2 separate regions of the Homo sapiens genome follow, and region 2 is linked to region 1. Evidence: fine-mapped expression QTL. A gene starts in region 1. The other region holds a variant in brackets. All regions are shown on one strand. Distances are between the middles of the regions.

Region 1 (5,375 bases):
TATAGGAATAAGGAAATTGAGGCATAGCAAGGCAGGTTCCACCCAAGGCCAGCTGGCTCCTGAGTCTATCCTCTTAACCATTCGCTATTCCTTCCTCTTTGTGCTGATCACACAGCAATGCTCAGGATGCTCAGAACAGCTTTGGGGAGTGTTTTGCCTCTAATGTCCTCATCTTGTTCTCTAGCCTCATTCAACCTGTTTCCTGTTCCCTGGAAGTCATTTTATGGCTAAATAAATCCCAACGAAATGTTAACTCTGAAGACAGGCACCTCCTGCCTTCTCCCCTGGACCCCCTTTCTGCTTGGAGTCCTGGTGTTTGCCATAGTGTCTGTATTTTCAGAAGGTTAATGGGTGCAGGATCCCACATTAGGACTTACAGGGAGGGCTCAGCCTCTGACCTCAGAAAATTCAGGTCCCAGGGGGAGTCAAGACAGATGAACTATTCAGTCTGTTCGTTATTCTAGCTATCAGCATCTTCAGCTAACCTGGTGTTTTTTAATGTAGTTTGAGAGTCTCTAAATTGATTTCATGACCCACTAACTAGCATCTCAAATCACATTTTATTTAAATGAAATTGAATGAAATACAAAACATGAAGTGTATTGCATATAGTACAATTAATAATTGTTTCAAGAAAATTTCTGTTTTAGTTGTGTGTATCTGAGTGTATATGTGTGTGTGTGTGTGTGTACACACTTGATTACAATATAAAATACATTTCTTACTGTGAGTCCAGTCAAAAAGTTAAAGCACCACATATCTTAATATTTTCTCCCTCTGGCTTCACAATAATTGTTTGCAGCAGTTTTACAACCTATGGTTTGTTCAAGGAAATACGAAAAAAGAGTTTTGATCCGCGGACCTGTGAAGGAGCAGAGGAGCCAGGCTGAGCCAGCACATGAGGGAAGCCCTTGGATCCAGACACTGCAGCAGAGCTAGGGCTGGCCAAAGGGCTGCATGGACAATAACTGGCTCACACTGAGGGCCCCGCTCCTCACCTGCCTATCTTAAGCCACCTGTTCTCTCTCTCTCTCTCTCTCTCTCTCTTTTTCTTTAAATACAGATGGCGTCTCGCTATGTTGCCCAGGTTGGTCTCAAAACTCCTGACCTCAAGCGATCCTCTCACCTCAGCCAACCAAAGTGCTGGGATTACAGGCATGAGTCACTGCACCTGGCCCAGTCACCTGTTCATGAAAACCCCAAGGCTCGCTGCTACCCAACCCGAGGTCAAGACTGGCCAGAAGGTGTGCAGATACCCTCTCGCCTATTCAGCTGTTGCCTACTGAAGCCTGATCTGCAGCTCCCACTGCACCGCTCAGGCAGCCAAATGGGGAGGAAAAACCACAGAGTGGTCGTAAGCTGTTCTTCCGCAGGCTCTTAAGCATTGGTCTCTAACCAACAAGGCCTGGCATATGTATTGAATTTATTTATTTATCATTATTATTGTTATTTTAGAGCTGGAGGTCTTGCTTTGTTGCCTAGGCTGGTCTTGAACCTTCTCACCCATTGCTTGGACCAGCTGGCAGCCCACGGGTATACCCCAAGCAATCCTCCTGCCTCGGCCTGCCAAAGTGCTGGGATTACAAGCATGAGCCACCATGCCTGGCCTTGAATGTACTGAACTTATTCTTCCGTGTATCCCAGGCACAGACCCACTTTCTGTGAATGGGAGAGTGGTCTGGCCATGGCTCACTGGCCTGTGGGTTAGCAGGACTGATTTGGCTGCTTCTCAGAGGCCCCTCCAACCAGAGCTGCGTCTTCATTCAGGGAAGATGACCTTCTCCAAAAGGGCCCCTCTCCAGACCCTACAATCAAAGGTATGCCTCTGTGTGGAAACCACATAAATGCACTTATCTTTCCTCTACAAAACTGAAACTCCTGACACCCCCAACTCCCCACCATCTGGGCAGGGTGGTTTTGTTTTTTTCCAAGAAGCAAATAATTCTAGAAGTCAGAGAGAGTGGGGCCCGGAATCAGGCAGCCTGGACTTTCATCTCAGATCTGCTTATGAGAGAATGCCTGTGGGCAGGTTGTTTAGCCTCCCCAAGGGTCAGCGGCCTCCCCTGTAAAGCAGAAGATAATAATAGCTCCTATTTCAGCAGGTTACCATGAGAATAAAATAAGGTAATACAGGAAGGCAGGTAATCCAATACTCAGCATATAGTAAATGCTCACTAAATACTACCTACCATCATCATAATGACTGTGGTTATTATGACAGTCTCTAGGCAGCCCCAGAGTGGCCATAGGTCTGAGAGCCCCACAGGGCCCCTCCTGGTTGATTCCCCAAATCCACTTCTCCATCACCCTCACTGACCTTCTCCCACTGTGAGGCCTCCTGCCTTCCACAGGACCTGCCTGCTGTCTCACCTCTTCATAGCTCACCTCTCTTCTCTACCCCAAGGCTGGCTTTGAGGGACCCTGGCTCCACAGTCCTTGCCACAGTATGAACAAGGTAATGTGGGGTCTGGCACGAAAGGACCTGGGTTAGAGTCCTTGCTCGGCTGCTGCCTGTAGGGAGGCATGGCTGTGTCCTTCAAGTAAATCAGGATGGACCAGAGACGGGTACCAAGTCTGAGACCCCACCAACAAGGATGGTCTCACCCATCAGGCAGGGCCCAGGGCCTAAGGTTTGTGACCGTGGCTCCTTGCTGCAGGTGGAAGTGGCAGCTAATGTCCAGTAGGCAGAAGGATGCATCCTGGGGCCAGGGTGTGGAAACGGGAGCAGGCAGGCAGCCTCTGTCCATCTCCTGGACAGGGTTCAAGGGACACACAATGGGAGCAGGACCTCAGATTGAGGGAACTGAGGCTGGAGCCCAGACACACAACCTGGGCGGGGAGAGTTTCTGCGATGTCTTGTTTTTGTGGAAAAGTCTTGGACGCACACACTGGTAGCTGAAGGTTCACCATCTGCGGAATCTACATGGGGACAGTCTATGAGCACGGGTGATGATGAGCCCAATGAGGGGATTCGCTGCAGCGACCCACCTGGGCCCTGAGCCCTGGATCAGCCTGGAGGGGCTGAACCCCTCCCTGCTAAGGCCGCTGTGTGGGGAGGGGCTGTGCTGGTCCTGGGGACTTCCTGCCTGAAGACGGGTGTGGGCCAGTGGGAACAGAGCCTGCAGCTGGCTCCGCACTCCCAGAGCCAGGAGGCAGGCATGGGAAATAGGCTCACAGAATACTCATTGTATACTAAGAGACGTTTGTCCCCTGAGCCCCCTTTTACTCTTCTAGAAGGCGGGAATGGCGATGATTTCCAATATATAAATTCATAGGTGTGTTACTGAAATGAATACAAGGAGTGGTTTGCAAACAGCTGAACTAACGTTCTTATAGTGTCATTAATTATCCTTGGGGTAAGTACGCAAACCCTTTGTTTTACAAGAATCACTACAATCTAAAGATAACACAACAAGTTGGGAAAGTTACAAAGGTTTCTGAAATCAGAAAAGGCTTCTGAGCAAGAACGGCTTTGGTTATTACTCCAGCCATGGTGGGGATGAGTGCCTGCATGGGGGAGGAGGGGGCACAGTTATTTTGGCTCCAAACTGGCAACAAAACAGGGTTTTGAGTTCTTCTGAACCAGGTGAGTGCCGGCCCCAGGGCTTGGCCAGTGTTCAGGGATGGGGTCTCAGTGGTCAGTCAGAACCACAGCCTGAGACCTCCCTGCCCTAAGCCAATCCTAGGGTGTCTGGGGAAGGCCTTCGGCCAACATGGACAAGTCAATGGTGGAGCAGAGGAGCTGGGCTCAACACCACCCTTGGGGTTAAATGAGCTGAGGCAGGGAAAAGGGCATCAAGCCAGCACTTCTCATACATTGAAGAGATTTTTGTGATGTTGCAGTTATTTTCATATCTCCCCATGCCTTCCACCTTCTCAACAAGTCTGCCCAATTATTATCTCATTTTTTTATTATTTTATTTTATTTTATTTGCAACAGTTTCACTCTGTCGCCCAGGCTGGAATGCAGTGGCACCATCTTGGCTCACTGCAACCTCCACCTCCCGGGTTCAAGCAATTCTCACACCTCCGCCTCCCAAGTAGCTGGGATTACAGGCGTCCACCACCATGGCTGGCTAATTTTTGTATTTTTAGTAGAGACGGGGTTTTGCCATGTTGGCCAGGCTGGTCTCAAACTCCTGACCTCAGGTGATTCGCCCGCCTTGGCCTCCCAAAGTGCTGGGATTACAGGTGTGAGCCACCGTGCCCAGCCCTATTATCTCATTTTTAACTGAAGAGACAAATAAGACTCAGACAGAGTGATTTGTCTAAGGGCACACAGCAAGCTAATGGCCAAGTTGGGATGAGAACCTCTCCCTGTGGTGTTTGGAAGGACAGAGTCCCAGGACCGGGGCAGGAACAGACCTGGGCTGCAGCTAGGAGCTCAATGGAGTTCAATGGACCGGAGCCTGGCAGGTCCACGCCCAAAGGCAAATGGAAAATGTCTCACTGGATTAATACAGCATCTGGTGGTGGCAGGTGGGAGATATGTCCTTTCTTTTTTATAGTTTTCTGTATCGATCTGGAATTTTGTATAAGCAAGCTTTCCATTTACAATTAGACAAAATAATCAGATTATACTCCAGGGGTCAAGGGGGTAGAGATCCCACCCACACGTGGCCAAGGTAGGGCCCTTCACCCACCAGCAGCTGCCTTTGTGGGCGGGTCTCTGGTCTCACCACACCAGAGCCCCTCGGAACGCTCTTTTCCTGAGATGACTTCCATTCTCCAGTTCTCTCAGCTCAGCCTCCCTCTTGGCAGTCACGGCTGCCCTCCCTCATCCCTCGAGGGTTTTCCAGCAATCCTTTGCACATAGCTCCTTGGCAGAAGATAGGGAGATCACATGGCTGCGTGACGGTGTTTTCTGACTCACGGAATGGAAAGAAACACTACACACAAAAGCAGCACACAGGGCCTCTGTTGCGAGTTGGGCTAACTACTCGGTGTGGGGCGTGATTCATCCGGGACTGCCTGGCGAGTGTACATGCTCGCAGGGCAAGGGCAGCGCAGCACTGAGCTACTCAGGCCCAGGCCCCTCCCAGGCAGAGCAATGAGTCCAGCAGCTCTGCCCGCAAGGGTCTGGGGCTGCCATGGGCTAACCAAGAGGTGTCTGAGGAGATTGCAGACAGTGGCTGGAGACGGAAGGTGAAAAAGTTAGAAGATCCAGGTTGGAAAAATTTGAGGAAGAAAGTAGTCAGACAGGTGTGGGCAGAATAGGGTCAAACTCTCCTGCAGACCAGGACACAGGCTCTGACTTCTCCACACCACACCCCAGGCCCTCCAGGTACAGCAGACACATGCTCACCATCATCAGAAAGGTTCTAATAAAATATTGATGTATTTATTATTATTTTGTTTATTTATTTATTGAGATG
Region 2 (5,375 bases), 26 kb after region 1:
TTGGCCAGGCTGGTCTCAAACTCCTGACCTCAGCTGATCCGTCCACCTCAGCCTCCCAAAGTGCTGGGATTACAGGCGTGAGCCACCACACCTGGCCAATTTTTTGTACAGACAGGGTCTCCCTCTGTTGCCCAGACTGGCCTCAAACACCTGGGCCCAAGTGATCCTCCCACCTCGGCCTCCCAAAGTGCTGAGATTACAGGCATGAGCCACGGTGCCCAGCACTTTTTTCTTTTGAACTATGACTCTCACATGATTTTCACTTCCACAGGTGGGGGTCCTCTGAGATAGTTTGTGTGTTATCTCCACAGGGTGATAGGCTGTGTTCTGGAAGGATGTTCAGGACTTGAATTTCAGTTTTCAGTCACTCTCACTGGATTCCCAAACTAGCCTAGTTTGGGACAAGAGATTACGAAACACTCCTTAGAAACACTAACTCATCTCAACTAAAATAGAGAGTGAATGAACCTGGTATGCTAAAGTGTTAATAATGACAAAATGAAAAATATAAAATAACACAAAATAATGAGGCAATCTCGATGGAATGGGCACATGTATCTGTGTGCCTCATTTTATGCAATGTAGGTATTTCAAAGAAGTTGTGTGTGAAATCAATTTCTGTGATCTGAATACTCTAAACCGGCCAAAGAAGCCTTGTTATTTAAAGAAATTCTGTAAGCAAATCTTTTTAACTGAAAAAGTAAGGAAACTCCTGTCTCAGAAATCATTTAGTATATTTTGCTTAAAGTGAAGCACACTTGTATTAAACTAAGGAAAAAAAAAATCAGTGAATCACGTTCTACCGTTTACATTATGTATAATTTCCAATGAGATAAGATAATGAAAAGTGAAAAAAAAAAAAAAAGAAAGAAAGTTTGGTCACTGTAGGAGAGTGTGCTGGGCCCATAAGATGCCCCTGTTTGAAGGAGACAGGCTCACAAACAGGCAATCACAGCAAAGCAGGTGAGTCTAGGCTAAGGGGATCACACAGGAGGGGGAAGGCTTCCTGGTACAGGTGCACCTAGGCTGAGTCTTAAAAGGAGGATATGAGCCTTCAGAGAAAAAGAAAAACATTATAAATAGACATAGGAGCAGGGGGCACATGACGCAGGGACTTCAGGCCTCCCAGGGTCTGTGCGAGACTTTTAGGCCCTGCAGACCTCAATGATGCAGAATCCTCAGGCCGGCCTGTGCCTCCTCCCCTGGGGTTGCACCCACCCTTTCTAGAGCCCACACAGGCTGCCGATTTCTTGCACACTGTCCTGGCTGGCTGGCAGCTTTTGATGTGCACTCAGGGAACTGGGCAGGGTAATCCTGGGAGGGGTGGTGAGCCTGAGACCATGAGGGAAAACTGCCTTCATGGGGGCAAAGGTGAGGAGTGGGGCAAACAGTGGTGTTGGGAAGTTCCCAGAGCCTGAATTTGGAGACCTTGATTCACTGCAGAAATCTGTGTCTAAGGAGTGGAATTCTACCCACCCTCCCACCCCACATTACATAGTGATGTAGGGAGTGGTGGGCACATAAGTAAAAGAAGTCATCTCTCGACTATTCCCAAGGACTTGGACACCATTTGTATTTATTTGTACATCCTGTTTTGGGGCAAAATGTCCGCTACAGACAACCTTGGCTGCATAAGCAACTTCTAGAATTCTAGGCCAAAAAGTCCTATCTGATAAGATCCAAGCGCGTTACTCTTGGATGGCCATCAAGCTCCCATCTTCTTCAGTGCAACCCAGAGGTTTACCATTAGACTCCCCAGCCCTGGAACACATTAAAGGTCAAACCTTGCCCTCAAAAAGGATCTGAGTTGTCCTTGCGATGACTGATAAGGCAATAAGGTGGTGTCTCAAAGTGTGTTTGGGCCTGTTTGTATCACAACTTCCTGAGCAGCTCACTACAAGCACTGTTCCAGGCCATGTTCTAGAAATACTGAATCCTAAGCGCTAGGAGGTGGGGCCCAGGAGTCAACATTTTGAACAATCACCTTAACAGATTATTCTGCTTAATGTGAAAATTCTCTCTTGGGGGCAGTTGCTATTTATTTTAATAAAATACAAGTTTTATGTCAAGGAAATTCATCTCCACTGTAAAATGTCCAGGATCCATCTAACACAGTATTTATCAGCCTCAGTATGGGTGAAATTTCGGACCGGATGATGCTTTGTCAGGTGCATTACAGAATGTTGACCAGCATCCCTGGCCTCGAGATGCCAGTAGCATCCTGCAGTCATGACAGACAAAAATTAAAAAAAAAAAAATGTTGCCAGACATCACCCAATGTCCCCAGAGGGAAAAATCTGCCCACTCTAACAAAAGGGGCTTCCTCTTAAAATCTGACCTCAGTCCAGCATAAGGAATATGCCTCCCGTTCTTGGAATGACCTCCACCAGGCTCTGCCCACACTGACCCCGGCCCTCCTCACCAATCTCCAGCTGCACGTGCACTGAAGCCAGTTCCCACCCTCACTCCAGCCGGGTTTCCTGGCTCCCTTCCCATCGCCCACCCTCCCACCTCACCACTCTCTTTTCCTGCCCATTGCCTAAATGCCCCACCATCCGGCCCCGCAGGACTATGGAAGAACAACACAGCCCACCCGCTTATGTGGGCTCCAAGGAAATGGCCTCTGGGGAAGAATTCTCCTTTTGTAAAAATGGGACCTTTATTTTTGTTTTGATTATAAAGTGAACATGGTCATGGCTGAAAATCTGTCAAGCACAGAAAAGTATAAAGTAAAGGTCGCTCAAAATTCCACTGCCCAGCCAGCTGATACTGACATCTAGGAGGTGTCCCACTTTGGCTCTTATTGATCCCTGGTGTGCAGACAGGGGTCCCCAGGTAGACAGAACCCCTGACCAAGGACAACAGGAGGCATTTGCTCTTCCAGGGTAAGCATCTGTTTTATTCAGATCTGGGTGGCTCAGGGCCTCCAGGCAGCCAGTTTTGCAGGAGATTCAGCACCTAGTGTCTTCCTGCCTCACGCTCCCAAGAACCTGCTCCTGCAGGGGGAACATCAGAACTC[A/G]TCCTTGATGTCAAAATGGGGCTGGTCTTCAGGCTTGAAGTCCAGGTTAGGGCTGCCATCCTCATTGAGAATTCTCCGGGCAGTGTAGCCGACGATGGGGTATTTGGCTTTGTACACTTTGGTGAAGACCTCATCCAGGGCCTCCAGTTCCTTGGCCGTGAGACCCGTCTTGGGGAGAAAAGCCCAAGAAAGACAGGAGATGGGGTTAAGTGGATAGTGTTTGGCACTGGCCTTTCTCCATCCCTGCCTTGCCTCCCACATCCCTAATGCAAGAGAAAAGATATCTCAACAAACCAAATAATGGACAAATGGCTTAAGAGACACTGCTGTGGGGGGGGCGTGGGGGTGGGAGGGTATAACATACGGGGAGCAATGCTTCATCACACTTTGTGGTTTGACTGATGGAAGGGATGAAAGACTCCAGAGAGCATGCTGGGGTGGGGCAGGGCATGCCCTATTGCATCTGCATCCCCTTCCTCCCCCCGATTAATCCTCCCTCTCTCTACACTGCTCCCATTATCCCTCTCTCTACACTCCTCCCATTATACATTTGGCACCTTCCCCTTTCTTAAGTTCTTCATTCATTTTTGTAATATTGTTACATTCATTTTGTTATGAGTTTGGCTCATCTCAATTTATCTCAATGTCAGTTTGATGTTGAGCACAGTTAGAGGAAATTCCAGCCTTACTGTTGGAATTATTTAGACCTTGAATAGGTTTAAAAAACAAATTTTTTTTTTTTTGAGATGGAGTCTCACTCTGTTGCCCAGGCTGGAGCACAGTGGCATGATCTCAACTCACTGTAACCTCCGCCCCCTGGATTCGAGCGATTCTCCTGCCTCAACCTCCCAAGTAGCTGGGATTACAGGTGTGCACCACCACACTCAGCTAATTTTTGTATTTTTAGTAGAGACGGGGTTTCTCCATGCTGGCCTGGCTAGTCTCAAACTCCTGACCTCAGGTGATCCACCTGCCTTTGCCTTCCAAAGTGCTGGGATTACAGGCATGATCCACCACTCCTGGCCTAAAAAATGTTTTAATGCTATCTTCTCCTTCACAGAAATATAAGCATAGAGGGAGACCTTTCTTCCCAACCCAGTTCATCCACAAAGCTACCAAGCATGGCCTGGGGAATGGGTCTCAGAGACTAATAGCAAGGCTGTAAGGGGCTGAGGGGATGGGGTGGCAGGTACAGACCATAAGGAGCATTAGGTTGCCAAAGCAGGTTGGGGCCAAATTGTGATGATCACTGAGTTGGATCACAAGTTCATAAGAGTTTGGACTTGACTCTAGGCAACAGACAGCCATGGAAGGTTTCTGAGTCGAGATGACATGGTAGGATAATCTATTTCAAGAAAATGCCTGGCCACCATACCAAGTGGACCGAAGGGTAAATAAGCTAATTAGGAAGGCTTGCTCTTGCCCAGATACACACACACACACACACACACACACACACACACACACACACACACACACGAAAAGAAAAAGAAAAAGAGAAAAAGGCATGGACAAGGAGGTAGAGGATTTTACAAAGGCTTATAATCTGGCTCACAGTGTCATGGGTGAGGTCTGCAGGATCCAAGGACATCTTGGCTACCCCTCTAGTGGAGTCCTTCCCCGTCAAGGCATTGTAGGGGGCTCCTCGTCCATAAAACTCTGTAGTGGGAAGGAAGGAAGAGACGTAAGCGTGGGTTTACATGCAGAGTAACCAGGAGCTTGCACGTGGGGGCGCTCCCAAGGCCCGCACCCAATCCTAAAAAAGACTCCACGCTCACGGAGAGGCCAAACAATGGCGATACAAAGTCCAGTAAGCCACCCCAGCCATCAGGTTGGATTCCACTTACTCTAAATGTGAAGTAAGTCACACATGCAGGCTGAGCAGGGATTTTCAGAAAATATAAAATGAGAATAGTACCCCTACAACCTCTTTTGTTGTTGTTTTTTTTTGACAGGGTCTCACTCTTGCCCAGGCTGGAGTGCAGTGGCACAATCTTGGCTCACTGCAATCTCCACCTCCCGGGTTCAAGCAATTCTCCCACCTCAGCCTCCAGAGTAGCTGGGACTACAGGCATGTGCCACCACCATGCCCAGCTAATTTTTGTATTTTTTTTTTTGAAGAGATGGGGTTTCACCATGTTGCCCAGGCTAGTCTTGAACTCCTGAGCTCACATGATCTGCCCACCTTGGCCTCCTAAAGCGCTGGGATTACAAGCATAAGCCACTGTGCCTAGCCCCCTTCTCGTTCTGTTTTTTCACCTAAGTGTTAATACTGAGAAAATAGTCTCTTAAAAATATTAGAGATGCAGGCTGGGTGCGGTGACTCACGCCTGTAATCCCAGCACTCTGAGAAGCC

Direction of the effects. Alleles are on the strand shown, and positions count from the first base shown. SD is a standard deviation of normalised expression in the study named.
For the expression in tibial artery of the gene that starts at base 2,254 in region 1, G is the low allele of the variant in region 2 and A is the other (moderate effect, 0.40 SD a copy in GTEx).

Evidence for each region. PIP is the estimated chance that this variant, and not a neighbour inherited with it, causes the effect. A credible set is the group of variants that fine-mapping cannot tell apart.
Region 2: its variant is the best candidate, but not a certain one, in a credible set for the expression of LINC02771 in tibial artery (GTEx, PIP 0.65).

What each region holds. Positions count from the first base shown.
Region 1 is chr1:212,469,757-212,475,131 of GRCh38, reverse strand. LINC02771 (long intergenic non-protein coding RNA 2771) reads left to right here and starts at 2,254. Exons shown (of 3, transcript NR_183725.1): 1 at 2,254-2,455. RefSeq lists enhancers at 2,549-3,049, 3,050-3,550.
Region 2 is chr1:212,443,642-212,449,016 of GRCh38, reverse strand. NENF (neudesin neurotrophic factor) reads right to left here. Exons shown (of 4, transcript NM_013349.5): 3 at 4,575-4,678; 4 at 2,638-3,187. The coding sequence ends at 3,011. Among named protein-coding and RNA genes, the nearest start is that of NENF, 13 kb to the right of the region's middle. The variant A/G (reference allele first, on the strand shown) is at 3,020.